Linked DNA regions of Homo sapiens: regions 1, 3, 4, 5 and 6 are each linked to region 2. The links come from fine-mapping of genetic effects on plasma protein levels. A gene starts in region 2. Each other region holds a variant in brackets. All regions are shown on one strand. Distances are between the middles of the regions.

Region 1 (5,076 bases), 85 kb before region 2:
GTCACTATTTTTTATTTAACCATTGTCATATGTGTATAGTAATAGCTCATCATAATTTTAATTTTTATTTTCATAATAGCAAATGATGTTAAATGTCCTTCCTTGTGCTTATTTGACATCTGTCTGTGCTTTTTGGTGAAATGCGTGTTCATATCATTTGCCCATTTTCTGTTTGTTTGTTTTGCTATTGAGTTTTAAGAGTTCTTTATGTAATTTAGATACTAATCCTTTGTCTGCTATATGCTTTCAAAACATTTTGTCCTAGTTGGTAGTTTGTTTTTTCATACTCTTAGCAAGGTCATTCACAGAACAAAATTTTTTTCTTTAATTTTGATAGCGTCCGGTTTATCTATTTTTGGTTTTATTGATGATGCTTTTGTTGTAAAGTTTAAAATATTCTTTGCCTGGCCCTAGGTCCTGAAGGGTTTTAATGTATTTTTCTAAAAGATTTGTAGTTTTACATTTAAGTCCGTGGTCTATTTTGAATTAATTCATGTATGGAGTGTTAGGTTCATGTCACCATTCAACTTTGCTTATGGATATGCAAATGCTCCAGCAATATTTGTTGAAAAAACTTCCTTTCCCCACACTGAATTACTTTTATGCTTTTGTCAATAACCTGTCAGTTATATTTATGTGGGTCTGAGTTCTCTGTTCTGTTTAATTTGTCTGTGTATCTTTCACTCTACCAATATCACGTGCTGTTGATTACAATAGCTACACAATAAGTCTTGTAATGGGATAGATTGATTCTTCCAACTTGGTAATTCTTTTTCAAAAATGTTTTAGCTATTTTAGTTCCTTTGCATCTCCAAGACAATTTTAAAATAATCTTGTATTCATCTACAAGAAATATTGCTGAAATTTTTGTAGGAATTGTATATATGAGTTTGGGGAGAATTAACATCTTTGCTATTTTGAGTCTCCAAATTGAAGAACATGATGTGTCTCATCATTTGTTTAGATCTTTGATTTCTTTCATCAGAATTTCTAATGTTTAGCATTCAAGTCTTATGAATGTTTTGTTAGAATTTGAAATGAGTATTTCCTTTTCTGAGCAATTATAAATGGTACTTATTGTATTTTTAATTTTTATATCCAAGCGTTCATCACTCAAAGTACACTTGATTTTTTTGTATATTTATGTCGTATCCTGTAGCCTTGCTGAATTCACTTACTAGTTCTAGGAGTTGTTGATTTTGGTGTTTTAAAATAGATTTCTTTGGATTTTCCACATAGCCATCATGTTATCTGCAAAAGTGAACAGTTTTATTTCTTCCTTTCCAATCAATATGCCTTTTTTTAAATGCTTTACTGAACTGGCTAAAACTTCCTGTGCTGTATTGAATTAGAGTAGTAAGAGCATATATCTTTGCCTTATTCCCTTTCTTAGGAGAAAAGCATTCTTTCTTTGACCATTAAGTATAATGTTAAGTGTTGGAGGTTTTGTAAAAGCTCTTTATCAAATTGAGGAAGTTCCTCTCTATTGTTATTTTTCTCAGAGTTTTTATTTTTATTTTATTTTTTTCAGACAGAGTCTCACTCTGTCACCCAGGCTGGAGTGCAGTGGCTCAATCTCAGCTCAGTGCAACCTCCACCTCCCAAGTGCAAGTGATTCTCATGCCTCAGCCTCCCAAGTAGCTAGCATGCATCACCACACCTGGCTAATTTTTTTGTATTTTTAGTAGAGACAGGGTATCGCCATGTTGGCCAGGCAGGTCTCAAACTCCTGGCCTGATGTGATCTACCCGCCTCACCTCCCAAAGTGCTGGGATTACAGGTGTGAGCCACCACACCTGGGATTTCTCAGAGTTTTTATCATGCATTTTGTCAAATGATTTTTCTGCATCAATTGATACGATTATGTGATTCTCTTCTTCATCATGTTAATATGGTAGGTTACATTGATTTTCACATATGGAACAAGCCTTGCTTTCCAGGAATAAACTGCACTTGCTCATAGCATATAGTTCTTTTTACATATTGCTTAATTCTGTGTCTATATTTATGAGGGATATTGGTCTGTAGTTCCTGTTTTGTTTTGTTTTTTTTAACTGTCTTTGTTTTTGGTATCAAGGTAATACTAGCTTTTAAAAATGAGTTGAGAGAAGGAGAAGGTGGGATTTGGGGGGAAAAGGTTGCAGACTTTTTGACTCAGGTCATTGTGGGCTTAGTCTCTATTGAGTGGCTGGGTTACTGCAGGAAGCCACTCTCCATTCTTAGGTGCATTCTTGTCTAT[T/A]AAAGGAGAAAGTTAAACGCCTCTGGAAAACCTCAGGTTTATTTTAGTGCTTAAAGTCTGTGGCTCTAAATTCAGATCCAGAACTCATGTGGCCTGGCCAGGGAGGGTCACGGAGTGCTTTCCTCACACCTTTGTCTCTAGGCTCTGTAGACCTAGAGGTGTGGGACGTAAGAGCAGGCCCTTACCCATGGAATTTACATACAAATGGTGGAATAAGACAGGAAGTAAATAAATGTGATTATTCTGATAATGGTAAAAATAATAAATGAGATAAATAAATAAAATCACTTGAGAAGTATTCCGCTGTCTTTCTTTTCTCTGGAAGAGGATATACAGAATTGGTATCTATTATTCTTTAAACTTTGGGCAGAATTTTCCAGTGAAACCATCTGAGCCTGGAGATCTTATGTGGGGCTATTTGCATTATTTGTTTTATATTGATAAGTTGTGGTAGTTTATGCTTTTCAAGAAAGTGGTCTATTTCATTTAAGTTGCCAAATGTATGTGTTTAGAGTTGTTTGTAGTATTCATTTATTATCCTTTCAACATCTACAAGGTCTTTAGTGATACCTTCTGTGTCATGCCTAATATTTCTAATCTATAATTCTCTCCTTTTTGCTTTGTCACTCTTGGTAGATGTTTGTGAATTTTATAGATCTTTTTAAAGAACCAGCTCTTTGTTTCATTGGTTTTCTTTATTGTTTTTCTGTTTTAAATTTCATTGATTTCTGCTATTATAGTCATTATTTCCTTCCTTCTTATTTTGAGTGGTTTTTTTTTCTCTTATTTTCTACGTACTTCAAGTGGGAGCTTAAATTATTGGCTTGATAATTTTCTTATCATCTAATTTATGCATTTAGTTCTATGAATTTCCCTCTCACCCTGCTTTATACATACCCACAAATGTTGATGTGTTGCATTTTCATTGTCATTCACTGTATTTTTTATTAAGACATATTTATTAATCCAAAGAACAAATTTTATTTTTCATTTTCCCCAAACACTAAAATAGCACATGGCATAGTAATTAAGCACACAACATAAACTGATATATGCAATCGCTAATCCCGAAAATGGTTAAGTCTCACTTTGGGAGTCTTTAAAACCTTATGCCCTTAAATGACCTTTATTAAAGTTATCAACAGACAACAAAAGGAGTCACCTGGAAAAATTTTAGGGTACAAGATACTGCAATTCCTAGAATCTGGGAAACTTTTTATCTGGGAAATAACTTGATTTGCTTCTCTGTAACTGAGCTACTTTTTTCTCGAGCTCATTTTTTTTTTTGAGACAGTCTCGCTCTGTCGCCCAGGCTGGAGTACGGTGGCGCCATCTCGGCTCACGGCAAGCTCCACCTTATGGGTTCACGCCATTCTCCTGCCTCAGCCTCCCGAGTAGCTGGGACTGCAGGCGCCCCCACCACGCCCGGCTAATTTTTTGTATTTTTTTTTAGTAGAGACGGGGTTTCACCGTGTTAGCCAGGATGGTGTCGATCTCCTGACCTTGTGATCTGCCTGCCTCAGCCTCCCAAAGTGCTGGGATTACAGGTGTGAGCCACCGCGCCCGGCCTCTCGAGCTCATTTTTAAGGTAACGCTGCTAGGGTTCTGAGTTTGAGAAGGGATCTTCTAAAGGTAAGCTTAATATTGCAACTTTCACCACAGGGCCTCTGTCTAAATTGCATTTCAAGTGGAAGGAAAGGGGTGTAAGAAGTGAAATAGAATTTTGCTGCAGACCAAAATCATTCTACAAAATGTAGAAATGATAATAGCTTACCACAAATTCAGCAAGATTTAACGCCAAGTACAGCGGTGTAGACTTTACAAGTATCCACTTCCGTTGGGTGATCAGACAAGCTGAAGGGACACACAGGATTTGGGACAGTAGCCCTTTAGACAATGCTGGGTGTTGAAGACAGAACTTCATCGTAAATCCGTATGTTCTAATCTGATATTTATACAGGCTATGATCGTCTCCTGAAATGTTTCCCAATTCTTTATATGTCTTTTAAAGCACAATTTAACATATGCTAAAAAATTTCCTTCCGCATCCACCAGTTTTGAATTTAAACTCAACTAAGTCTGCCAGGTCGTACAAACCACACCTTAATCATTCTAAGACAACTCTTAAAATTAATCTACTTGTATTGTTCTGCTTGTACCTTAACTATGGCATAATGAATTTGCTAATTCAAAATGTTGCAGAGCCAGTAACCCCAGTGTTATCTGCAGACCATCTGAGGTACTTTTAAGCATTTTTTTGAATTCTATTGTTTGCTTTGAAAACATGGGGTTTAAACGGTCAAGGAAAATGCGTTTTGTCTCGTCATTCAGGAGCTCTTCGGGACACGCCTGCAGTGTTGCAGACAGGATGGAATGCAGGCAAGAGGGTTCCAACTCAGAGCGCAGACCCTTGGGAAAAGCACTTGGTGGGTCATCCTGAAAACTTCCCATTTCCGGCAGTTTTTGATGGCATGGCAGTCGTGACACCTGAGGCTCTCCTTTGGGGCACTGTCCTCTGTGGCCGTGGGTGGCCCTGGGCCCTCCTCCCAGCCAGTCCCGCCCCAGAGCTTCAACACCACTGCAGGACACCCGAGCAAAATACTCTGTTGGAGCAGGGAACAAACCCACGGCTGCGCTCGGAGTGGCTGCTGAGGCTGGATTTCTTCTTACTGATTCTTTCACATATGGAAGAACTGGGCCGCCACTGGGAAGCGAGAGGCCAGCCCTGCTCGGATCCTTTCTCATTTCCAGTGATAATGCCTCACTCTGAATTTCCATCAGCCGCAGGCTTATTCATCCAGGAGGGTGCATCTGCAGGCCAAGGGCCCTCCATCGGC
Region 2 (5,076 bases):
TTGTTTGTTTGTTTTGTATTTTTGGTAGAGGTGTGATTTCGCCATGTTGCCCAGGCTGGTCTCAAACTCCCAGGCTCAGGAGATCCACCTACCTTGGCCTGCAATACAATATACTTTTGTATTTTTTATATAACCACCTGACAGCTTTGGCCCCTAGTTGTATTTGAGAGGGAAAAGCTGCTATTTATTTAAAGGAAGGACATATAATTATTAATAAATTGATTTTTAAAAAGATGTATTTGCCTGATGGTGCTTCTGAAAAGTTGTCAGTTTAATTGTTTTTAATTTGTTAAAAGAAAATCCATAGCCAAATTAAATTTAAGAGAATTTAATTGAGCAAAAAACAATTCGTGAATCTGGCAGCCTCCAGTGCCAGAGTAGGCTCAGAGAGACTCCAGTGCAGCCACATGGGGGAAGATTTATAGACAGAAAAGGGCAAGTGAGGCACAGAAACTGCAGGATTGGATACAGCTCCATGTTTGCCTTATTTGAACATGGTTTGAACAACTGAACCTCTTTGATTTACAGAAATTCGGGGATAGGCACAAGAGCAGGCTACAGTCTGTTTACACCTCCATTTAGATTACAATTCGCTATGTACAGAGAAACCTTTAGGCCAAACTTAAATCACATGGGGAGGCAGCTTTAGGCTAAACTTGATTTCACAAATTTTCAAATTAACAAGTAAAAACTGTGGATATTATTCAATTTAATCTTTAAGAGTTTATTAATCAATATGCATTATAACTTCATTTTTGTAAAAACAAAAAAAGATATGCCTAGAAAAGGGTTATGGAGAGGGCACAAGGGACGTTTATTTTCTAAAACATATTTTTTATAATGGATTTTTTTATATAACTTTAAAAAGAATTAGAAACGTTTCTGAATTATTAATGATTTCCTTAAATCTTTAGCTACATATATTTCTCCATAAAGAGCAGTTCCTCAAACTGCATCACCTCAACCCTGATATTATATATTTTTATTTTTATTTTTATTTTTTGAGACAGAGTTTCGCTCTGTCACCAGTCTGGAGTGCAGTGGCACGATCTCAGCTCACTGCAACCTCCGCCTCTCGGGTTCAAGCAATTCTCCTGCCTCAGCCTCCTGAGTAGCTGGGACTACAGGCGCCCGCCACCACGCCCAGCTAATTTTTGCATTTTTAGTAGAGACAGGGTTTCACCATGTTGGCCAGGATGGTCTCGATATCATGACCTCGTGATCCGCCCGCCTCGGCCTCCCAAAGTGCTGGGATTACAGGTGTAAGCCACCGCGCCCGGCCGGTATTAAACATTTTTAAAGTAAATTTATTAAATCTCAAAAGAAGCACACTTTGAATACTGAGGAAGAGACGTTGTAACCCATAAGCAGAGAGTAGGTAAGTAAAAGCAATTTCCACCACTCTCAGACTGGGCGTAGTGGCTCACGCCTGTAATCCCACCACTTTTGGGAGGCTGAGAGGGGAGGATCGCTTGAGGCCAGGAATTCAAGAGCAGCCTAAGGAAACTTAGCCAAACTCCATTTCTACAAAAGAAAAATTTTTAAAGCAATTTATTTCACCATTCTCAACGCTTTTCTCTTTTTTATTAACCAAATATTTCTGTAACTCTTTTTTTTTTTTTTTTTTTTTTTTTTGGTATTGAAAGACATGGGAGAAGGAAGAATTCCTGAATGCAACAGACTGGGAAGGACGCACCACAAAACGCTCCGCGGTCTCTGGACACCCTATCAGCTAGTCCCGTCCCTCCTGGTGTCCGGTCTCGACCATCCATCCCGTGTTTTGGGAGTGCCTTTCCTTACCAGATTCTTCTAAAGCCCTGATGCACCCACCCTTAAGTGGAAGGTAATGCTTCTGCTGGGGGCTGTGCGTTCTTCCACTCCGTCCCACCTTTGCCGTGGACTAAACAGGAGCCACTGAACGAGAGTACCCTGGCTCCCGGCCCTGCAGATTTTCACCAAAAACTCTAGGACTAAGTTAAAGTAGGGACTGAAATACCACACAGAGCTCGCTGTAAACCACCCGCTCAGCGCAGTAAGTCGGGATAGTCAGTAGATCTGAGCCCTTGAGGGAGGCGCCTCCCCCTCCTCCGCGCAGCCCCCGGGCGCCCGGCCCAGCTTCCCGCAGCCAGGGTGTATTGAGGTAGGCGCGCCCAGACCTGAGACGGGTTGGGACTGGGCTGCGTCACGCGCGGGCTCTAAGCGCCCGGGGCCCCGCCCAGTGGCCGGCACAGCCAATCGCAGCGCGGGAAGGCGGTGGGGGCGGGGAAGGCCGCCTGGAAACTTAAATCCCGAGGCGGGCGAACCTGCACCAGACCGCGGACGTCTGTAATCTCAGAGGCTTGTTTGCTGAGGGTGCCTGCGCAGCTGCGACGGCTGCTGGTGAGCGCCCCCGACCAGACCGAGGGACAGGGCGAAGGGGGACTGGAGGAGGGAACCCCCCTTTAGGGACACTGAGAGGAGGCGGGCGCTTCTGGGAGTGAGAGCTTCTGCCCGGAGCTCTGCCAGCCTCGAGGTGGGGAACGGGGGAGGGCGGTTGGAGACCCCAGGGAGGCGCCGGCACCACTGGGAGGGCCCGGGCGGGGCAGGTCAGTCATCCTGTGGGCTGAAGCCGGACCGGACCGGGCGGCTTCATGCCCCCAGCCTGGCCGCGGAGCCCCCGCTCCCTGCACCGCCGCAAACATTCTCGGGGCGCGGCGGCGCGTGCAGAGGGCGAGAGCAGGCGGTGCGGCCCCGGTCCTGGCCCGCCCGGAGCTCCGGGAGCTGCCTGCCTCGGTCCGGGCCCTGGCCCTGGGGCCCCTGGCTTCCAGCGGCGCGGCCTTGTGACCCTGCCCCGGTTTAGGGGAGCGAGTAGCACAGACCCAAGTGTGGGACGGCGGGAATAGTGGGTGCTCTCCTTCCCAGTGTCTCCTGGAAAGGGATTCCCGAAAGGTTTTATTCCAAAAGGAGAGGTTGGAAGACATAGCTCATCTCCTGCTGTGTATCAGCCAAGAAGGTGTGAGGTGGTGTTCCTTGGGGATCCGCTTGCATCTACTTGGGATGGTACGTCTTCATTAGTGAGGTTTTGCCTGGATGACCTCAGTACAATTGGTGCAAAACCTGGACCAACTCTTTCCTAGTTTTCTAGTTGTTGCCTTAAGCTTCTCACCCGTCAGGTATCTTTCACACCCTTCTCATACCCTAAATTATCGCATATGCTGTTTCAACGCCTCCAACTCTGCAGGCTGCTTTTAATTTTGGTGGGCCCATCAAATACCTCCACTTGGCCTGTTTCAGCCTCTTCCACAGTCCTTGGGGAAATGCTAGGGAGAATAATTGAAATATTTCTATTCCACGGGGGCTGTAAGATGGCTTTTTAGGATTGGTCTAATCAGATACTCATTTCTTTTCTCTTTCTAGGTTTTGAAACATGAATCTTTCGCTCGTCCTGGCTGCCTTTTGCTTGGGAATAGCCTCCGCTGTTCCAAAATTTGACCAAAATTTGGATACAAAGTGGTACCAGTGGAAGGCAACACACAGAAGATTATATGGCGCGGTTGGTAACATCTGAAACTGTCCAGAGGGACTCTGGAGAGAATGGTCCTCGCTGTTGGGAGTTGATAGCCAGAGAGTAGCTTCTAGACACCAGACCTTACCAGGCAATAACCTAACAGCACCCATTATAGGTGCAATATGGGCATATATCTCCATTGTGTCTTGGCTTGGAGAACAGCTCCCAGAGAAGTATCAACCCATCCCTGGCCATGGTTTCTCTTCCATTTCTGCCCGCAAATCGGCTTGGTGAACATGGGTTGGGTAAGTAGACATAAAGTCCACCAGCTATATGTTTGCCTCTAGAATGAAGAAGGATGGAGGAGAGCAGTGTGGGAAAAGAATATGAAAATGATTGAACTGCACAATGGGGAATACAGCCAAGGGAAACATGGCTTCACAATGGCCATGAATGCTTTTGGTGACATGGTGAGTGTGGCAAGGATTGCTGAACTCTGTGCTGCTTCTCAGTTCTTCACCAAAATAGTCTTGCTTTTAACATTTTATTTACTTCTCCTTGAAGACCAATGAAGAATTCAGGCAGATGATGGGTTGCTTTCGAAACCAGAAATTCAGGAAGGGGAAAGTGTTCCGTGAGCCTCTGTTTCTTGATCTTCCCAAATCTGTGGATTGGAGAAAGAAAGGCTACGTGACGCCAGTGAAGAATCAGGTGAGACAGCGTCAGATTCAGACCCTGTCTCCACAGGAAAGCCAAGAAGGAATTGGTGTCATTGCTGTGGTAGATGGTGGCACAACATATGGTGATGGGTTTTTTGTATTTTTGGTTTTTGGTGTTTTTTTTGTTTGCTTGTTTGAGACGGAGTTTAGCTCTTGTTGCCCAGGCTGGATTGCAATGGCGTGATCTCGTCTCACTGCAACCTCTGCCTCCTGGGTTCAAGAGATTCTCCTGCCTCCACCTCCCGAGTAGCTGGGATTGCAAGTGCTCACCACCATGCCCAGCTAATTTTTGTGTATTTTTAGTAGCGACAGGGTTTCACCATGTTGGCCAGGCGGATTTCAAACTCCTCTCCTCAAGTGATCTGCCCGCCTCGGCCTCCCAAAGTGTGGCGATGGGTTTTTTTTTTTTTTAAAGAATATTAAGGTAATTCAATTATGGGGTACTGTATTTGTATTGGTCTTGTAAATTTACAGCTTTTTTTTTCTCCCTTTTTAGAAACAGTGTGGTTCTTGTTGGGCTTTTAGTGCGACTGGTGCTCTTGAAGGACAGATGTTCCGGAAAACTGGGAAACTTGTCTCACTGAGCGAGCAGAATCTGGTGGACTGTTCGCGTCCTCAAGGCAATCAGGGCTGCAATGGTGGCTTCATGGCTAGGGCCTTCCAGTATGTCAAGGAGAACGGAGGCCTGGACTCTGAGGAATCCTATCCATATGTAGCAGTGGTAAATGGAGCTCCTTATCTTGTCATTCGTGCTCTGCTTTTGGAAAGTGGAACACTTTCAGAGATAACAGATACTTTTTTCAGAATTCACATTTTATATGGTAGAATCTACATCTGCAAACCGTGAGTATTGTCATTATAAATTATTAG
Region 3 (5,076 bases), 77 kb before region 2:
CATCTTAGTGTTTGTACCTATTCATTATCTTTTTAAAAAACACCTTTTAACAGACTTTATTTCCTAAAGCAATTATATGTTCAAAGCAAAAATGAGCCCAAAGTACTGAGAGGTCCTATGTATCCTCTACCCCTTCCCCACATGCGCAGCCTCACCAACTGTCAACATCCTATATTAAAGTGTTACATTGGTTCCCATCAATGCACTTACACTGACACATCATTATGACCCAGAGTCCATAGTTTACATTAGTGTTCACACTTGATGTTGCATATTCTGTAAATCTGGACAAATATAATAATGACATGTATCCACCTTAACAGTATCATACAGAATTGTTTATTGACCCCCAAAACCCTTAGTTCTCCACCTGTTCATCCCTCACTCTCCCTAACTCCTGGCAATCACTGATCTTTTTACTGTTTACATAGCTTTGCCTCTTCTATAATGTGTAATTGGAATCATGCAGTATGTCGCCTTTTCAGATTGGTTTTTTTTCACTTAGTGATATGCTTCCCAACTTCCTGTTTTGCAGCCAGGCACAGTGACTCAATGCTGTCATCCCAGTACTTTGGGAGGCTGAGGTGGGCATATGGCTTGAGCCCAGGAGGTTGAGGCCAGTCTGGGCAACATGGCAAAACTCTGTCTCTACAAAAAATACCAAAATAAAAAAAAAGTTTCTCCATGTCTCTTCATGGAGAGAGGGTCTCACTCTGTCACCCAGACTGGAGTGCAGTGCTACCATCATAACTCACTGTAACCTCAAACTCCTGGCCTCAAGCAATTCTCCCACCTCAGCTGCCTAAGCAGCTGGGACTATAGGTATGCACCACTACACCCAACTCTTTTTTTTTTTAATTATTTACATTTTTGTAGAGACGAGGTCTGGCTATGTTGCCAGACTAGTCTCTAACTTCTGGCCTCAAGCTATCCTCCTGCCTCAGCCTCATTTCTTTTTAGTGCTGAATATTCCATTGTCTGTATGTGCCATAGTTTATTTATTCATTCATCTACTGAAGGACATCAAAGTTGCTCCTGAGCTTTAGCACTTAATGAATAAAGCTGCTATAAGAATTTGTGTTTAGGTCTTTGTGTGGACATAAGTTTTGAACTCATTTGGGAGTTATTTTTAATAGATACAAAGTCTCAGCTTTGCAAGATGAAAAGAGTTGTGAGGATGGATAGTGGTAATGGTAACAGAGCAATATAAATGTCTAATACCACTGAACTGCATTCTTTAGTGTATTTTACTGCAATTTTTAAAAACTAAACAACATGACCCTCATACAAAAATGTACCACCTCACTTTCTCAGTAAAATTATTTTAGCAAAGTTCCAGTGGTAACAGAAATCAAAATCTTAAAAATACGTATATTCTTTGAGTCAGTAATTCCATTTCTAGATATGTATTCTAGAAAATCTGGCAAGGGAATAATATTGTAAATACACACATTTGGCGTGGTTTTTTTCAAACAATGACAAGTGGAAAACCACCTCAATATTTCAGAATAGGGGATTGGTTAAATATCACTCTGATTATCACCACACAATTAGCTATTTACAATTATGATCTAGATGGAGAACTGTAACATGAAATTTTGTTCCAATATTTTGTTTTGTTGAAAAAAGCAGATCACAAAACTGTGTGTGTGTGTAATGCTTTTCAAGTAATTAATCTAGAGAATTATCTGACAAGCATCCAGAGATCATGTTAAAACTTTACGCAGATGAAGCTTGGGGAACCTGTCTAACATTTTATTCGCATAAAAAACATCTCTGAGTGCTCATTCTGGGCCAGGCCTTTTATGTATACAGCTCATTTAGTCCTCACAGCAGCCCTTCATGGTGGACACTTTCATTATTTTTTTTTCCTTTTTATACTGTGCTAAAATATACATAACATAAAATTTGTCATTTTTACCATTTTTAATTGTGCAATTCGGTGACATTAATTACAGTAACAATGCTGTGCTACCAACATCACTGTCCTGATCCAAACTGAAATTCTGTATCCATTAAACAACTGCCAGTTCCTCCTTCCTCAGCCCCTAGTAACCTCTATCTCCTTTTACTCATGAATTTACTAATTCTAGCTCCTTCACAGAATGGAATCATGCAGTATTTGTCTTTTTGTGTTGGGCTTATTTCATGTAGCATATAATGCTTTCAGTTTCACCAATATTGTGGCAAATGTCAGAACTCTTTCCCGTCTCATTGTTGAATAATATTCCATCCTATGTGATGCCACATCTTCTTTATCCATTCATTTGCTTGTGGACACTTGGGTGGTTTCCATCTTTTAGCTATTGTAAGTAATGCTGCAATGAACATTGGCATGTAAGTATCTGCTTTAGTACCTGCTTTCAGTTCATCGTATATATACCTAGAAGTGGAGTTGCTGATAATTCTATATTATAATATCATAGAATAATTCTATGTTTGATAGCTATGACAAGTCTATGTTTAACTTTTTAAGGAAACACCAAACTGTTTTCCACAATGGCTGTCTCATTTTAGTGTCTCCCAGCAGCAATGCCCAACGGTTCTAATTTCTCCACATCCTCATTGACACTTGCCATTTTCTGTTTTTTTCATAGTAGTCATCCTAATGGTTGTGAAGTGCTATCTCATTGTGGGTTTGAATTGCATTTTCCTAAGTATGGAGGATGTTGAGTACCTTTGCATGTGCTCATTGGCCTTTTGTTTATCTTCTCTGAAGAAATAGTTT[T/C]ACTCATTTTTTAATTGAGTTTTTTGGTTGTTGATGAGTTACAGGAGTTCTTGATCTATTCTGGATATTAATCCCTTATCAGATTTATGATTTGCAAGACTTTTCTCCAATTCCGTGAGTTCCCTTTTCACTCTGTTGAGTGTGTCCCTTGATGCACATAGTTTTGTGCTTTTTGTTTGCACATAGTTCTTTTGTTGTGTGTCCTCTTAGTGTTTAGTGGAGGTTCATACCCTCTTATTTTTTCTGCATTTGTGGTTTTTGAAAAATTTTATACAAAAAGTATTTTAAAAAATAGTCAAAATGATTGTGATTGTATCCAGCCTCTATCATTTTACATTCCATGTGATTTTAAGGAATAGTCTTAAGCACCCTGAGTTTCATTTCCTTCACCCTTAAAGGGGATTATATCTACTTCATTGGGTGTATGAGAACTGATATCCTATTATGTATAAAATGCTGAAAACAATTCCCAGCACTGAACAAAATTTGCAAACTAATATATCATTGTCATCAACAATAACAAAAAATAATAGCAACATAGTATACTATTATAGCTCATTGCACCATGTTCCTATTTTGTGTGTTGTCTATTATTTTCATCAAAATAGAATTATCAAGTTATTTTAAGTCATTATTTATGCTTCTGATTATTTCTTGGAATATTAAAAAACAATTTGGGGGATTGTCTTAGTCCATTTCTACTGCCAAAACAAAATACCACAGACCGGGCAATTTATAAACAATAGAAATTGATTTCTCATGGTTCTAAAGACTGGGACGTCCAAGATCAAGGTACCAGCAGGATTGATGTCTGGTGAGGGCTGCTCTCTGCTTCCAAGATGGTGCCTTGTTGCTGCATCCTCCAGAGGAGTATAACACTGTGTCCTCACATGGTGGAAGGGATGGAATGGGACAAACTCACTCTTTCAAATCTTTTTATAAAGGCCCTAAACCCATCCATGAGGGCTCCACCCTCGTGACTTAATCACCTCCTGAAGGCCCAACTGCTTAATTCTATCACATTGGCAATTACATTTTAGTACTTGAATTTGGGGGATCGGTGGGTATAAAACAGTTTAAGAATACTGAAGCCTGTAGCCAAGTTGCACTCCACAAGTGAATCACCAATAGTAAAAGAAAAAAGTATAATTATATTGCTATATTTTTACAACAGCAGATTTGTAAATTAAAATGTTACCTCACCAATTTGATGGCATAAAGTATTACAAAATGTTCTCATTTCAACATGAAGTTGCAAGTAATTTCATATATTCCTCATTTTTTCTTCTGTGCATTCTGTCTTTAGCCATTGATTTATGAATGGTCCATGTAATAATTTAACCTTGTATTTCTCATATATTTTTAAATATTTTTCTAGTTTGTCTATTCTTTTTAATTATGCTGTGCTATGCATGAAGAATTTCTAATTATTTTAATTTAATCCATTTAATTTTTCTTTTTTTTTTTTTAATTTGAGAGAGTCTTATTCCGCTTCCCAGACTGGAGTTCAGTGGCACGATCTCAGCTCACAGCAAACTCTGCCTCCCAGTCAAGTGATTCTCCTGCCTCAACCTCCAGAGTAGCTGGGATTACAGATGTGCACCACCACGCCTGGTTAATTTTTGTATATTTAGTGGAGACGAGGTTTCACCATGTTGGTCAGGCTGGTCTCTAACTCCTGGCCTCAAGTGATCCGCCGGACTCAGCCTCCCAAAGTGCTGGGATTATAGGCGTGAGCCACTACGCCTGGCCTCTTTCTTTTCTTTTTTGATTTGCTTAAGAATTCCTAAGACCTCTCAAAAAACATGAAATTTCTATTATAACATAATTAATTGTCCAGCTGTTAAGAACTTATTTTGTTTGTATGTAAAAATTGTCAAACAACTTTATAGCCTCCAAATAATTACCTGGTTTCCACAACACCATTCAGTAAATTATTCTAAATTTTCCACCAAATTTATAGCATCAAATTATCAGGTACTTTATTTTTATTTATAATATAATTATTTTCTTTTCTCTGTGTTCTATTTCTTTTAGTTATCAGGTTATTTCTATACTCATAACTTAATTATTTATCTTTTTTTATTACTACATGAAATGCATTGCATATACAAAAGTTCATGAATGAACTTTTCTTTTCATGATGAACTTTTCCAGTGTAACTTATTGATTATACTTTCCTATTTATTACTCCAAATTAATTTCAGAATATCTTTTTTTTATAACATATTAGCTCCTTGAATACAATTCTATCAATAAATTGAATTTGTAACATTTGGCAGCTTTTCAATACTTAATCTTTTTTCCATCACCCTCATATATTTTTCTAGGATTTTAAAGTTTTCTTT
Region 4 (5,076 bases), 57 kb before region 2:
GCAAGACTTTGTCTCAAAAAAAAAAATAATAAAAATAAATAAATCAATAAATAAATACATGAAATTGTATCGTTTCATGTATTGATATACTCTGTGTATTCAATCCATAATTAATGGGTTGCCCTAGTCTTTTGCTACTACAGAAAATGAATGAACATTCATTGCAGTGAAAAGTTTATTACAGTGAATAACTTTTTAAATAAAAATTTTACACATATGCAAGTATACTTAGAGGATAAATTTGTGAATATGAAACAGTTGACTGAAATGGTAAGAGAAAAATGTACCTTTTGTAGGAAATGTTATGAAAGTACATTTTACCCAACAACTCTACCAACAGAAATGAATGGCTACCTTTTTTTAAGAAATCAGTCTTATTATGTTGCCCATAAATTTTTTAATTAAAATTTTAGTCTTAGTCATTCTAATTGTCAAAGAAATGGAATTGAAGTTTTGATTTGCATTTATCTCATTATACATATGTATGAAAATATGTTCCTCTAAGAGTCATTTTATTTTCTTTTTCTGTGAACTGTAACCTCGTACCCTTTGCACATTGTTTTCTATTGGGTTTTTGTTTTATATCTTGATCATTTTTAGAACCCAAAAATATTGAAATTCGCCCTTTGTATCTGGTAAGAGTTGCAGATTTTCCATTCTTCTCTTACCAGTTGTCATTTGAATTTGTTCATTGTGTTTCTTCTACTTAGGAATGAGGTTCACTAATGAATATTCTAGTGCCAGAACATTTCAGCGAATTAACAGAGGAGAAACAGTATGATTAGAAAATCACTACTTTGTAACTCTAATGAGGACTATGTCTAAGCAACAAACATGAATGAATACCAAGCATTTAACAGGTTGATGAGGAATCTGTATAACGGATGACTCAGGCTGATAATACTTGGACCCAATAATCAATTTTAATATCACTAAACAGATATTGTGCTTTCTGTTTTGATGCAAAGGGAAGTACGCAGTACTATATATGAAATATTCTCAATAAGACAAAAATGAAATATATCAAATTTGTAGATACACTTAAAAGTCCATGCAAAATATAGAGGATGGAGATACAAGTAAAGTGAAACCATGAGTAAAACTGTCTGTCAAATCTAGATTATGAAAAACTTGGCAGGCCAGGCACAATTGTTCATCCCTGTAATCCCAGCAGTTTGGGAAGCCAAGGCGGGAGGATTGCTGGAGCCAGGAGTTCAAGACCAGCTTAGGCAACATAGTGAGACCCTCTCTCTACAAAAAAATAAAAATCTAGCCAGATGTGGTTGCTGACACCTGTAGTCCCAGCTACTTAGGAGGCGGAGGTGGGAGGATCACTTGAGGTTACAGTGAGCTATGATTGCACCAGTGCACTCCAGTCTGGGTGATACAGCAAAACCCTGTTCTAAAAAATGAAAAATTAAAAAAGAGAAAAAAAGAAAATTCTACAGTAATAGTGACATGATATCTTCAATTTGTAAATATAATAACAAAAAAAGAGAGAGGGCGGCCCAGCCCTCTCAGAGGAATAAGTAGCAGATTTATTGTTTCACCATCAACAATTGTCAAAGGGGAAGAAAATAAGCAACTGTGTCCAGGTTTTGAAAAACAGACAGTACAGACTACAGTTCCTTTTATTTATTTATTTTCTTTCTTCCTTTTATTTATTTATTGAAGACAGAATCTTGCCCTTTGGCCCAGGCTGGAGTGCAGTGGCTCCATCACAGCTCACTGTAGCCTTGACCTCCCGGGCCCAAACAATCTTTCCACTTCAGCCTCCTGAGTAGCTGGGACTGCAGGCACACGCCACCACATTTGGCTAATTTGTCGTAGAGACGGAGTCTCACTATGTTGGCCAGGCTGAATGACTATAATTCTTAAGTGAAGGGAACAGAGCCATGAGCCAGGAAATGGAGCCCAAACATAGAGCAGAGATCTTGTGGGATGATGAAACCTATCAGATGTTGGGGCTTTTGAAGTGGCTGAATTTTATGTGGAAAGTCACCAGAGAGGAAAGAATGGGGCAGGGAAGGATCCCCAGGATTGCATGCAGGTCATGTGATGTCCTGGTTGTACACTAAGCTGCACATGCACAAGGACACAAGGCAGGACCCTGAGAGCTCAGAGAGGATAAATCAGGGGCCGGAGCGAAAGGGAGAGGAGCACTTGGGGGTTGAATGGAGAATTCTAGATTGCACTGCTCCCAGATAGAGTTCAAGCAGCCAGAACAGAGACCATGCATGACTGTTTCTTTATATTTCCCATCGTTACGGTGTTTGTTCTTGTGTATAGTGTGGGAAACTAATCCGACTTTTTCAAATGGCTATGCCATTGGAAAAATAAATGGCTACATCATTTACTTAAAAATTCCCCTTTTTAGCCCAATGATTTGAGATATGAACTTTTTATGATTTACTAATTTTCCATAATATTTGGATTTTATTTGTGTGCTTGATTTTAGTTCTATCTCATTCATCTATTTGTTTAGTCGTGGGCCATTATTATTGTTTTAATTATATAGTCTTTGCAGTTGGCTTAATATGTGGTGATGTTAATCCCCCTCGTTTCTCTTGATAGTATTTTTCTACCCTTGTGATTATTTTTCCATATGAACTTCAATATCAACTTGTCTAGATCCAAAAACCCAACCAAAAGAAACTACTGTTGTTATCTCAATTGGGATTGCATTGACTTCATATGCTAAATTACTGGAGAACTGACATACTGATGATATTGAGGCTTTCTATCCAAATGTCTCTACATCTGTTCAAGCCACTTTTATGTTTTTTAGAAATGTTTTACAGTGTTTTTTTGGTGTGTGTGTTGCTGTTTTTTGTATTTGAGACAGGGTCTTGCACTGTTGCCCAAGCTGGAGTGTAATGGCATGAAACAGCATCCTGCAGCCTCATCTTCCTGGGCTCAAGCAACCCTCCTGCCTCAGCCTTCCTAGTAGCTGGGACCACAGGTGTGCACCACCACGCCCAGCTAATTTTTTTTATTTTTTGTAGAGAC[A/G]AGGGTCTCACTTTGTTGCCCAGGTTAGTCTCAAACTCCCAGGCTCAAGCAATCCTCCTGTTTTGGCCTCCCAAAGCATTGGGATTACAGGCATGCACCACAATTCCTGACCTACAGTTTTCTTCTTATGGGCTTTGTACATTTCTTGGTAAGTTTATTCCTAAGTATGTTTTATTGCTATTGTAAATGTAGTTATCTCTGCCCTTATAGCTTCTGACTGTAATTTGTATGTGTGAAGGCTATTTATTTTTGTACAATTGTCTTCAAATTTTTAATATGTATTTTAAATTGCTTTGCCAAAGATATCAACACTTGATCCCCATTAGCATTATAGGAAAATTTATTATCTTACTGGACCTTTTCATTTTTGAAGCAGATTAATTTGGAAACTTTTACAAATTGATGAGCAAAATTATTTGTTTCCATTTGAATTGATTTAATAACTGAAAAAGTTATTTTTCATGTTTTTATCACTTATAAACCTTCTATAAATTTATCTTTAATTTCTCTTTTCCACTTTTCTGTTTCAGCCTCCTGGTATTTTTAAGGAAATGTAAGAGTGTGAATCAGGTACTGATGGTTTTGACTTCATTATGATCAGCATCTTTGGCTTCCATCAGAGTAGACACTGAACGTTTTCATCCAACCGGATGATGAGTGCATTAGTGAGTATTTATTTAGTTCATAATACATGTTCCTGCCACACTCCACTGTAATTTGTTTCAGACTGACTAATGTAATGAGAAATCTTACCAAATATAAATGGCACTGCAGATCAAAACCCACTTGATTTTTCTCATTTTATTCTGGGTTCTGGAGAGAGACTAATTATTACTGCCAAAATAAATGTGTGTCATAAATGAAGGCTTATTTGCTATGGAAATACTCATTATTTCCTATTGGCCTACATCATATCCCAAAATTACCTGTGAACATTGAGAGGGATAATTGGTTACCATGGAACTTTCCAACATGATATTTAATATAGTTCTATTCTTTTCGTATTCCCTTTTAAAGGAACTACATAAGAGATGAAATCCTTTCTCCCTGGGACATGTATCCTTTTGTGTTCTGCTTTTAATTTGATGTTTTTCAGTCTTTTCAGGCTGAAATATAATATTTGTATCATTCTGAGAGCCTGTAACACCATGCTTTCCAGCAATACAATTATGGAAATTTTTTTCCTCTCTCATATTGACATTGGGATTTGGAGGAACTTACTGCTACTCCTGATGCCTATTTACACCTTTTTGATATGTCCCCAGCAGAAGAAGCCCATGGGCTTGCTTTTCCTTCACTTGTCTGTTGCTAATACGATGACACTTCTCCGCAAAGTTATTCCATTGGCAGTAAAATCTTTCAACACTAAAAATCTTTTGAATTATACTGGATGTAGGGAATTTGAATTTTTATATAGAGTATCTTGGGGACTTCCCCTATGTACGACATACCTCCTAAGCATGGTGCAGGCCCTCCGTGGGAGCCCCAGCAAATCCAGGTGGACGTGGCTGAAAGACAAAATGCTCAAAACACCACTGTGCTTCTTCTTACACTCTGGGTCATCAACAGTCTCATCTACATCAAGCTTGTGCCATTTGTTGACACTATCAAATATGGCAGTGTCACCAAGAATCTCTCCATAAAAATGTGTTTAGCTACACCACACATGGGCAACACAATTGCTGTCTCTCATACGAGTGTTATCACATTCCAGGACTTAATTTTTCTGGTTCTCATGAGTTGAGCCAGTGGCTACTTGGTGATTTTCCTTCACAGACACCAGAAAAATAATCCACATCTTCACAACAACAGCTGTTCCTCTATAGCCTCCCATGAGACCGGAACCATCACGACTGCGCTGCTGCTTATGATTTGCTTCGTTGTATTTAATGTGAGCAACTCGTGCCACAGCATTTACCTAAGTACGGTGAAGAAAAGGGATCAGTTGTGGACCATCTCAGATTTGATTTCCTCATGTTACCCCATTTTTTGGTCCATTTTTGCTCATTGGTAGAGAAAGTCTTATCCTGAATTCAAAATCTATGAAGTAGAGAAAGTCGTCTTATC
Region 5 (5,076 bases), 100 kb before region 2:
GAAGCAGGTTCAGAATTCGGTAATGGCCAGAGGTTAGAGTGTTTGGAGAGCTTGGAAGAAGACAGGAAGATGAGGGAAAGTTTGGACCATTGTAATTACTTGTTAGTTGTGATTAAAAAGCTGACAGAAGGATAGACAGTGAAGGCCAGGCTTAGAAGGTCTCAGATGAAAATGAGGAGTTTACTGGAAACAGGAGCCAAGGTTACATTTGTTTTGCCTTAGCAAAGAATGTCGCTGCATGATGCCCCTAACCTGGAGATCTGTGAAACTTTGAACTTGAGGGTGATGGTTTCGGGTGTATCTGGCAGAATGAACTTTTGGCAGCAAAGCTCAAGAGGTGTCCTGTCTGTGTCCTGGTCTTCTGTGTGACCAAATAAATGACCTCAATTAGAAACTTATATTTAAATTAGAAGCAGAGCTTAAAAGTTTAAAAAATTGCAGCCTGGCCAAATGGTCAAAAAGAATAGCTGATTGTCAGTGGGAAAATTCAAGACAGCTTCAGAAACTTGCATAAAATGGAGCCCAGTGCTAATAGCCAAGACAATGGGGAAAAGGCCTTGAATGCATTTCAGAGACCTTTGCAGCAGCCCTTGCTGTACAGGCCCTGAAGCCTAGGACAGAAGAATGGTTTTCTGGGACAGAATGGTTTCCTGGCCCAGCCCAATGGTCCCCTGCAGTGTGCAGCCTCAGGACACTGCTGCCTACATCCCTGTAGCTCCTGCTCCAGCCATGGCTGAAAGATGCACAGGTACAGCTTGGGTCACTGCTTCAGGGTTGCAAGCTCCAAGCGTTTGTGGCTTCCACATAGTGTTAAGCCAGCAGGTGCACAGAGCACAAGACTAGAAACGTAGAAGTCTTCATCTAGACTCCAGAGTATGTATGGAAAATCCTGGGTTTCCAGGCAGAAGCTTTTCCAACAGGCAGAGCCTCATGGTAAACCTCTACAAGGACAGTACACAAGGAACATATAGGGTGGGAAGCCCCCACACCGGGAGGCACCATTCTCCAGACCCCAGATTCATAGACCCACCAACAGCTTGCACCCTTAGTGTTGAAAAGCTACTGGCACTCAACAGCAGCCCAGCCCATGAGGGCAGCTTTGGGGAAAGACCTTGCCATACCACAAGTGCTGAGCTGCCCAAGGCTTTGGGAGACCAGCCATCAAACCACCCTCTGCTCTGGATGTAGGATGTAGATTCAAAAAGTATGATTTAGAGCTGTATGATGGAATGACTGGCCTGCTGGATTTTTGACTTGCATGGGGTCTGTAAGTCCTATCTGTGTTTTGTGCTTCTTTCTTTGGCAAATTTCTTCCTTTTTGCTGGGAATGTTTACCCAATGCCTGCACAAACATTGTACCTTGAAAGTAGTTAACTCGCTTTGTATTTCAGAGGCTTAGGGGCAGAAGGGACTGCAGCCTTGTCTCAGATGAGACTTTGGGCTTTGGACATTTGAGTAAATGCTGGAATGAGTTAAGGCTTTGGGGGACTGTAGAGAAGGCATAATTGTATTTTGCAAAGTGAGAGTAACATGAGATTTGGAAGGCCAGGGGCAGAACAATATGATTTGGCTCTGTGTCCCAACCAGAACTCATGTAGAATTGTGATGGGGAATGTTAAAAGTGGTGCTTGTTAGAAGGTGATTTAATCATGGTGGACAGTTGAGATTGGAAGTGAGGGTGTGGTGAGTTTGGGGGGTTTAGGCTGGGGGTGGGGGTGAAAGATGGGGCTGGGGGGCAGATCTTTCACAAATGGTTAAACAGTATGTCCTTAATGCTGTCTATGTGAAAGTGAGTTCTCATGATGAATGCATACATACTCTCCAGGTTTTTGGGCTTTCATTGGACCTGTGTCCCAATTGTGTTATTTTTCTGGAAAATTTCTTCCCATTGGACTGAGAAACCTTACCCAATGCCTGTACCATCATTGTATCTTGAAAGAGAAGCACTCCCTTTTACATTCAGGGACTCTTAGGCAGAAGGGACTGCAGCCTCGTGTTGGATGAGACTTTAATCTTTTTACATTGAGTTACTGCTGGAATGAGTTAAGACTTTTGGAAACTTTTGAAAAGGCTTGTTTGTATTTTATTCTGTGAGAAGGACGTGAGATTCAGGGATTTTATGGTCAGAGTAATATGGTTTGGCAGTGTTTCCCTACAAAGATCATGGGAAATTGTATTCCCAAATGTTGGAGGTGGGGCCTGGTGGGAGGTGATTGAATCATGGATGGGAGGGAGTTGGGGGTAGAAGAAAAAAGGAGGGGGTAGGGTGGGGAGGAGTAGGTTGGCAGTAAAGTGGTGAGAGGCTGGTGGGTAGTAGGATGTGGGAGTAGCCTCCTGCAGAGGCAGAGCCTCATGGAAAACCTCTACTAAGGCAGTGCACCTGTGGCTTTCAGTGTTTAGTCCCATGGCGGCTCTCATGGGTTGGGCTGGCCTTGAGTGCCTGTAGCTTTTCCATACTGAGGGTGCAAGCTGTTGGTGGGTCTATGAATCTGGGGTCTGGAGGATGGTAACCTCCTGTGTGGGAACTCCAAGCCCATATTTTCCTTCTGCACTGCCCTAGTAGAGGTTTTCCAAGAGGCTCTGGCTCTGCAACAGGCTTCTACATGGAAACAGTAGTGGGGTGGGGGTGTTGGGGGGGGCCAGATCTTTCACCAATGATTAAGCATCATCTTCTTGATGCTGATTTTGTCATAGTGAGTTGTCGTGAGATCTGGTTGTATAACAGGGTGTCACACCTCTTTCCTCTCTCTGTCTTGCTCCTACTTCTGCCATATGAAACATCCC[A/T]TTGCCGCTTGGTCTTCTGGTATGATTGGGAGGCTTCCTGATTCCTCCCAGAAGCAGAGGCCTCTATGATTCCTTTAAAGCCTGCAGAACCATGAGCCAGTTCAACCTCTTTTCTTTATGATCTTACAGAAAATTAGTGCTCGGAAGTGGAGCTATGAAATGCCTTCAAGGCCTTTTTGTCTTATTGTCTTGGCAATCAGCACTCAGCTTCTCTTCATGCAGATATCGGATCCCTTTGTGAATTTTTCCCTTGAAAATGGACATTTCTTCTTTTTACCACATTGATAGGCTGCAACAAGGATGGATGAAAATGTAAAAGCAGGTTCAGAAGAGGGTAACAGCCAGAGGTTGGAAAGTTTGGAGGCCTTGGAAGAAGTCAGGAAGATGAAGGTAAGTTTTGACCATTGTAGAGACTTGTTAAATAGTTATAATTAAAAGGGCGACAGAAGGATGGACAGTGAAGGCCAGGCTTACAAGATCTCAGATGAAAATGAGGAATTTACTGAAAACAGGAGCCAAGGTTACTTTGGTTTTGCCTTAGCAAAGAATATCACTGCATGATGCCCTTAACCTGGAGACCTATGAAACTTTGAACTTGAGGGTGATGATTTAGGGTGTATCTAAATCATAGGGTGTATCTAAATCACAGACATGAACTTTTGGCAGCAAAGCTCAAGAGGTATCCTGTCTGTGTCCAAAAGCCTGTGGTCTTCGGTGTGACCAAATAAATGACCTCAAGTAGAAACTTAAATTTAAATGAGAAGCAGAGCTTAAAAGTTTGGAAAATTTGCAGCCTGGCCAAGTGGTCAAAAAGAAAAGCTGATTTTCGGTGGGAAAATCCAAGACAGCTTCAGAAATTTGTATAAAATGGAGTCCAGTGCTAATAGCCAAGACAATGGGAAACAGGCCTTGAAGGCATTTCAGAGACCTTTGCAGCAGCCCTTGCTATCACAGGCCCTAAGGCCTGAGAGAGAAGAATGTTTTCCTGGGCCAGCTGCAAGGTCCCACTGCTGTGCTCTGCCACAGCACACAGCTACCTGCATCCCTGCAGCTCCAGCTCCAGCCATGGCTGAAAGATGCACAGGTATGGCTTGAGTCACTGCTTCAGGGGTACAAGATGCAAGCCTTGGTGGATTCTACATAGTGTTAAGCCAGCAGGTGCACAGAGCAAAAGGCTTGAGCCTTGGGAGCCTTCGTCTGGACTCCAGAGCATGTACAGAAAAACCTGGGTTTCCAGGCAGAAGCTTTTCCAAGAGGCAGACCCTCATGGGAAACCTTTTCTAGGGTAGTACAGAAGGAACATATGGAGTTGGAATCCCCACACATGGAGGCACCATTCTGCAAACCCCAGATTCATAGACCCACCAACAGCTTGCACCCTCAGTGTGGAAAGCTACAGGTGCTCAACACTAGCCCAGCCCATGAGGGCAGCTGTGGGGGAAAGACCCTGCAAAGCCACAGGTGAAGAGCTACCCAAGGCCTTGGGAGCCCAGCCATCACACCCCTGTGCTCTGGATGTGGGATTTAGATCAAAAAGAGATGATTTGGAGCTGTACGATGGAATGACTGGCCTGCTGGGTTTTTGACTTGCATTAGATCTGTAAGTCTCATCTGTATTTTGTGCTGCTTTCTGGCAAAGTTTTTTCTTTTGGCTGGAAATTCATACCCAATGCCTGTACAATCATTGTACCTTGAAAGTAGTTAACTTACTTTGTATTTCAGAGGCTCAGGGGCAGAAGGGACTGCAGCCTTGTGTCAGATAAGACTTTGGGCTTTGGATACTTCAGTAAATGCTGAAAGGAGTTAAGACTTTGGGGGACTGTAGAGAAGGCATCATTGTACTTCGCAGTGTGTCAAAGATATGAGATTTGGGAGAACTGGGGTCAGAATAATATGATTTGGTTCTGTGTCCCTACCGATACTCATGTGGAATTGTAATGGGGAACGTGAAAGTTGGGACCTGGTGGAAGGTGATTTAATCATGTTGAAGCCTGGGTGTTGGAGGTAGGGGTGTGGGGAGAATGGTTGAGATTATTTTGGGGGTGGGGTTGAAAGATAAGGATGGGGGGCAGATCCTTCACAAATGGTTAAACACTATCTCCTTAATGCTGTCTGCATGATAGTGAGTTCTCTTGATGATTATGGAGCTTTAAGATTGAGTGAATACTGTCCTGCTGGATTTGGACTTGCATTTGTATTATTTTTCTGGGAAATTTTTTCCCTTTGGATTGAGAAAGCTTACCCAATACCTGTACCATCATTGTACCTTGAAAGAAAAGAAATCCCTTTTGA
Region 6 (5,076 bases), 180 kb after region 2:
CCAGCTCACCACTGATGTTCACTTAATGCCTCAGGGCTCTCAGTCAGCTTGTGGTGAATGCTGTCTGGCCTGGAACTCACTCTTCAGGACAGTGGGCTCCCCTCTGGCCCAGGCTAAGTCCAGAGATGCCATCTAAGAGCCAAGGCCTGAATCAGGGACTCCAACAGTCCACTGGGTGCTCTTCTCCACTGTAGCTGAGCTGGTGTCTAAGCTCCAGAAAAATCCTCTTTACTCTGCCTTCGGCTTTTCTCAAGCAGAGGGAGTCTCTCCTCACAGACACCACAGCTGGGAATGTGCGGGGTCACACCTGATGCCAGCACATCTCTGAGTCTCACTCGAGGCCCATGGCATGTACTACCTGGTTACCACTGCTGATTATTCAAGGCCCAAGGGCTCTTTAGTCAGATAGTGAAGAATCCTGCCATTACTGAGTCCTTCCCTTCAAGGAAGCAGGTTCCCTTGTAGCCCAGAGTTTGTCTAGAGATGTTATCCCAAAGCTGAGACCTGAAAGGGGGGTCTCATGACTCTGACCAGTGCCCCCTCCTACTGTAAGCTAGTATCCAAGATGCAAGACAAAGTCCTCTCCTCTCTCCTCTCCTCAAGCGGAAGAAAGAGGTCTCTGTCAGAGCTGCGAGCTGCACTGTCTAGGGTTGGAGGAGGGGTGGGCAAGCACTCCATAGCTGCCCTAGCTGCTGTTTCTCTAGGTCACATGCCCCCAAATACACTGGCTCCAAGCGCGGCACAGCACTAGGACTTGCCTAAGAGTTGCAGTCCTTGTGGCTTAGACAGCCTTTCAGGTTTATTAAGGACCCCGAGTACTTTATCCTGCAGTAGCCAGGCTTTCCACAACTCAAGTTCCAACCACTGGGATAAACAATTCCCTTCTGGCTAGCACTAGTGTAAATGTTTCCTCTGTGGGTGGGCACTAGTGTAAATGTTCCCTCCGTGGGTGGGCACTAGTGTAAATGTTCCCTCCGTGGGTGGGCACTAGTGTAAATGTTTCCTCCGTGGGTGGAGGCATCAGATGAGTGCAACCTTGTTTTGCTTTCTGCTACAACAAGGCAGCACTGAGTTCAGTGCAAAGTCCCACAGCTGCTGTGCTCTCCCTCCGCCAAGCACGGACTCTCTCCTCACCACAGGTCCACTGCTGAGGCTATTCCTGTGGGGAGCACAGCTGGCAGAGATTTCTACTTAGCCATCAGGCTCCACTTCTGTGGCTGCATACATTCTGAATGACAGTCTTACCTACAGGCAAATGTAAAACAAACAAACAAACAAACAAAACCTCGCGCCACTGCCTGTCACGATCTTGATCTTCATATGAGGTGTTCCTTCATATTTTCCTAAGCGTCACCCACAAAGCCATTCTCACTGTCCAGTGGGCACTCTGAGAGCCTTTGCTAAAAATGCCTCCCTGGCTCACCCTGCCTACCAGCTCCAAGGCCCTTCCCTTTACAGCAGTCATGAGGCCAGACTGGAAGAAAGACCCCATGAAGCTCATGTTTCTGTGTCCAGTTGGTGCCATCTGTGAGCAACCCCCTGACTCAGCAAGATTTATTGCACTCTCATAGGTAACTCAAGGACCCCAAAGTGCTGTTGTGGTTGTATGAGTGCCCTAGGAAGCTCTTGAGTGAGGTGAGCATTGGGTGATGTCCAGCAATGCAATGTTTCTCAGACTGCCTGAGGAGAGCTTCTAACTCATCAGCCCAATCTCTAAACACAGGCAACACTCCTGGGGGAGGGGATAGGGGCACAGGGATCTGTGGCTATTCTGTATGTCAAGGTTTCTATAAAACAGATCTTCAGATAAAGGCAGCGGAAACACCAGCAAGAGCAAATGCACAATGTATGACTCAGGGTGAAGCTACACATTTTTCACAGTCTAGAGGCCCTAGACCTGTCAGCGGCCAATTATTTCAAAGGCCAGACATGTGCACCTTAAAGAGAGACTGGAACTTGCAGACGGCCTCTAGAAAGCCATAAAGATATTTACTGTACTATTATGTTCTGGTAGTATACTTGGAAGATAACTGCCAAAAATCACCAGAAAAATACTTTTCAATTTATGAGCAGATTATTACAAGAGCAATTTACCAAGACCTACCAATGAACAATGAAAACTATGAACTGTTATTCTAAAGCTAATAGAAAGATGTGGTTTTCATGTCCATTTCCATCATCTGCACAATGTAACCTTTAAAAATATTTCTTAAAGTGTTAAGTTTATGGGAGCAAAAAAATATTGAAAAATTATCAGAAAGTTCACAAAAACCTTACAAACTCACATGTCATCAGATTAAATGTTCTCAGAGAGCCTGCAGTTTTTCACACTCCCTGCAACCTCATGGTCATCGCTCCACAGCAAGATAAATGGGTGACAAGACAATCCTCTTCTAGTTTGGTTGGACAAATGTCAATATCAGCATAACTTTCAAGTCTTTCTATGTAAATCTGCAAAATAGAGCACTGGCCTTTGATTTAGCTTAGTTTGAGTGCTGTAATAAGAACTCTTAGGAATGACAGGTTTCTTCTGGTTTTGACCAGAAAGTAAGTGCCTTTTATTCTTATGTTCTACAGAGAC[T/C]TTGCTTGATCAGGCAGAGCAAGAGGCCATATCACAATCATAGGTCAGATACTTCTGCTACCTACTGTGCCCATAGAAATGTACAGCCCAGTTTTAGTCACAAGAATGATGGTCATCTCAGCCAAGGGCATCATGAAAAGAGGCAGTGTTGTCACCTTCACACTCATAAAAGGCAGCACACACACAGGCCCAGTGTGGATTTAAAGTCATTCAGTAAATCCTCAAGTGCCTACCACATGTAATGTCTGACACCTAGCTGGTAGGCAGATGGGAACTTTACAAGTACGTCAAGCTTGAATATGTAAAACCCATGTGATAGTGAGCAAATGTTAATCTTTTCACAAAAACTTACCCTTCTATATAGGGCACTAGCTTAAAAAACTGCGGTCAAGAGAGCCCCCCAGTGGCTGCTGTGCAGAGCAGCATGGCAGGCGCAGGTCTCTGAGGTTGTAAAACATTCCCCATAGTCAGTTGTTGGCTTGATAAGGAATGCACGTGTATAAAGAATGGTCCTTCTTACAGCCCCTATTTTTCACATCTTCATGATCACATCATAAAAATTGTTCTGTCTTACATCATCTGCAACTTAGACAATTCTGTTGGTTTTAAGGTGGAAACAGCTGCCAGTCTATGTATCCCTGGGATTCCTCTAACCCTGCTAAGCAGGGTTACTCATGAATTACTTTACATCTATCAATCATCTGTCCTACAAAGAACTGGGCAAACCTTCTTGGAAGGCCAGAAGGTTTTGCAAAAGCTTTAGGAAAGGGTTATGGCTGAAGGCAGCCTGATCCTCTTACCTTGAGTTAATAGTAAAAAGCAAATAACAAGGGAATGTAGAGGAGTTTATCTAAATAGCTTGTTTTCTCATTGTTGTCCTAAGACTGACCTTTGATCATTCGCATGCAGGACTGCTCTCTCTGGGGAGGGCGGGAGAAAGGGAGCAGAATCTCTGTAAAATGTGATGTTCAATAACCATTTGTTTTTGAAAACATTTTTGAGGTTGGTAGCTTAGATCTGGCAATGTTCTCCCATCTAATAACCATCAGACAAGAAATAAACTTGCTTAGAATAAACTTTTTTCCTTTTGTTTTGATTTAAAGAGTTCAAGTAGCTCATGGATATACTCTTCTGCAGAGCACCCTCTGAGGTAACAACACCTCGCAGCTCACCTTTAATCTTTACTCAGCTGTTCACTTTGCCCAGAGAGTGGGAGAAAATCTTCACAATCTATATATCTGACAAAGGACTAATATCCAGAATCTACTACGAACTCAAACAAATCAATCTCATCAAAGAAAAAAAACAAACAATCCCATCAAAAAGTGGGCTAAGGACATGAATAGACAATTCTCAAAAAAGATATACAAATGGCCAACAAACATATGAAAAAATGCTCAACATCACTAATGATAAGAGAAATCCAAATCAAAACCACCTTACTCCTGCAAGAATGGCCATAATCAAAAAATCAAAAAATAGTTGATGCTGGCATGGCTGCAGTGAACAGGGAAAACTTCTACACTGCCGGTGGGAATGTAAACTAGTACAACCACAATGGAAAACAGTGTGGAGATTCTTTAAAGAACTAAAAGTAGAACTACCATTGGATCCAGCAATCCCACTACTGGGTATCTACCCAGAGGAAAAGAAGTCATTATATGAAAAAGATACTTGCACATGCATGGTTATAGCAGCACAATTTGCGATTGCAAAAACGTGGAACCAACCCAAATACCCATCAATCAACAACTGGATAAAGAAACTGTGGTATGTATCTGATGATATACTACTTAGCCATAAAAAGGAATGAATTAATGGCATTTGCAGCGACCTGAATGAGATTGGAGACTATTATTCTAAGTGAAGTAACTCAGGAGTGGAAAAACCAAACATCGTAGTTCTCACTCATAAGTGGGAGCTAAGCTATGAGAATGCAAAGGCATAAGAATAACACAATGGGCTTTGGGGACTTGGCGGGGAATGGCGGAGGGCAGCGGGGCAAGGGATAAAAGACTACAAATGGGGTGCAGTGTATACTGCTCAGGTGATGGGTGCACCAAAATCTCACAAATCGCCACTAAAGAACTTACTCATGTAACCAAACACCATCTGTTCCCCAATAACCTACGGAAATAAAAAACAATCAGCAAAAAGCAAGAAAATTCGTTAATGCGCATGGAAACCTAAGATAATTAACATTAAATTTAAATATGTTGAATCAATAAGAGAATTCGGCAAGAAGCAATGTTAAGGGATAAAAACCAAAAGCTTTTCTCTAACACCTGCAGCACCGGGCTCGACCCGCCTTAGAACCCTCACGCCTGGGGGCGCCAGGACAGGGCTCACAGGTCAATGGGTCGGGTAGGCTGTAAAGAGACAAGGTGGAGGTTCCAGGTTGAAAATGTATAAAATTGTAAAGTAAATTCAAAGTTATATCATTTCAATGCTAAATACTTCAGTAGTGATCCCTTTTTTTAAAAAAAAAATTTCTA

Which allele goes with the higher level. Positions count from the first base shown, and alleles are read on the strand shown. Strength reflects both the effect of a copy and how common the allele is.
With allele T in place of A in region 1, the plasma level of the protein whose gene starts at base 2,308 in region 2 is higher (weak association).
For the plasma level of the protein whose gene starts at base 2,308 in region 2, allele T in region 3 goes with a higher level than allele C (weak association).
In carriers of allele A in region 4, the plasma level of the protein whose gene starts at base 2,308 in region 2 tends to be lower than with G alone (moderate association).
As copies of A replace T in region 5, the plasma level of the protein whose gene starts at base 2,308 in region 2 goes down (strong association).
With allele C in place of T in region 6, the plasma level of the protein whose gene starts at base 2,308 in region 2 is higher (weak association).

The links. PIP is the chance, under the fine-mapping model, that this variant and not a neighbour inherited with it causes the effect. The UK Biobank Pharma Proteomics Project read protein levels with antibody pairs (Olink). The fine-mapping took linkage between variants from a reference panel, not from the people measured, so its PIPs are less certain.
Region 1: its variant is fine-mapped to the plasma level of the CTSV protein (UK Biobank, PIP above 0.99).
Region 3: its variant is fine-mapped to the plasma level of the CTSV protein (UK Biobank, PIP above 0.99).
Region 4: its variant is fine-mapped to the plasma level of the CTSV protein (UK Biobank, PIP above 0.99).
Region 5: its variant is fine-mapped to the plasma level of the CTSV protein (UK Biobank, PIP above 0.99).
Region 6: its variant is fine-mapped to the plasma level of the CTSV protein (UK Biobank, PIP 0.97).

The regions. Positions count from the first base shown.
Region 1 is chr9:97,121,760-97,126,835 of GRCh38, reverse strand. LOC105376166 (a long non-coding RNA gene) reads left to right here. Exons shown (of 3, transcript XR_930154.3): 3 at 1-2,537. It also overlaps the pseudogene FAM220CP. Among named protein-coding and RNA genes, the nearest start is that of CTSV, 85 kb to the right of the region's middle. The variant T/A (reference allele first, on the strand shown) is at 2,240.
Region 2 is chr9:97,036,374-97,041,449 of GRCh38, reverse strand. It overlaps CTSV (cathepsin V), which reads left to right and starts at 2,308. Exons shown (of 8, transcript NM_001333.4): 1 at 2,308-2,379; 2 at 3,397-3,532; 3 at 3,835-3,957; 4 at 4,052-4,198; 5 at 4,703-4,927. The coding sequence starts at 3,407. RefSeq lists a silencer at 1,964-2,273.
Region 3 is chr9:97,113,448-97,118,523 of GRCh38, reverse strand. No RefSeq gene overlaps it. Among named protein-coding and RNA genes, the nearest start is that of CTSV, 77 kb to the right of the region's middle. The variant T/C (reference allele first, on the strand shown) is at 2,729.
Region 4 is chr9:97,093,720-97,098,795 of GRCh38, reverse strand. LOC107987104 (a long non-coding RNA gene) reads left to right here. Exons shown (of 4, transcript XR_007061681.1): 2 at 3,540-3,674; 3 at 4,027-4,065; 4 at 4,793-5,076. It also overlaps the pseudogene VN1R51P. Among named protein-coding and RNA genes, the nearest start is that of CTSV, 57 kb to the right of the region's middle. The variant A/G (reference allele first, on the strand shown) is at 3,010.
Region 5 is chr9:97,137,951-97,143,026 of GRCh38, reverse strand. LOC112268050 (a long non-coding RNA gene) reads left to right here. Exons shown (of 6, transcript XR_002956927.2): 6 at 3,073-3,158. Among named protein-coding and RNA genes, the nearest start is that of SUGT1P4-STRA6LP-CCDC180, 98 kb to the left of the region's middle. The variant A/T (reference allele first, on the strand shown) is at 2,785.
Region 6 is chr9:96,854,906-96,859,981 of GRCh38, reverse strand. It overlaps a transcript of ZNF782 not described here. Among named protein-coding and RNA genes, the nearest start is that of ZNF782, 2.9 kb to the right of the region's middle. RefSeq lists an enhancer at 1-115 and a silencer at 1-115. The variant T/C (reference allele first, on the strand shown) is at 2,582.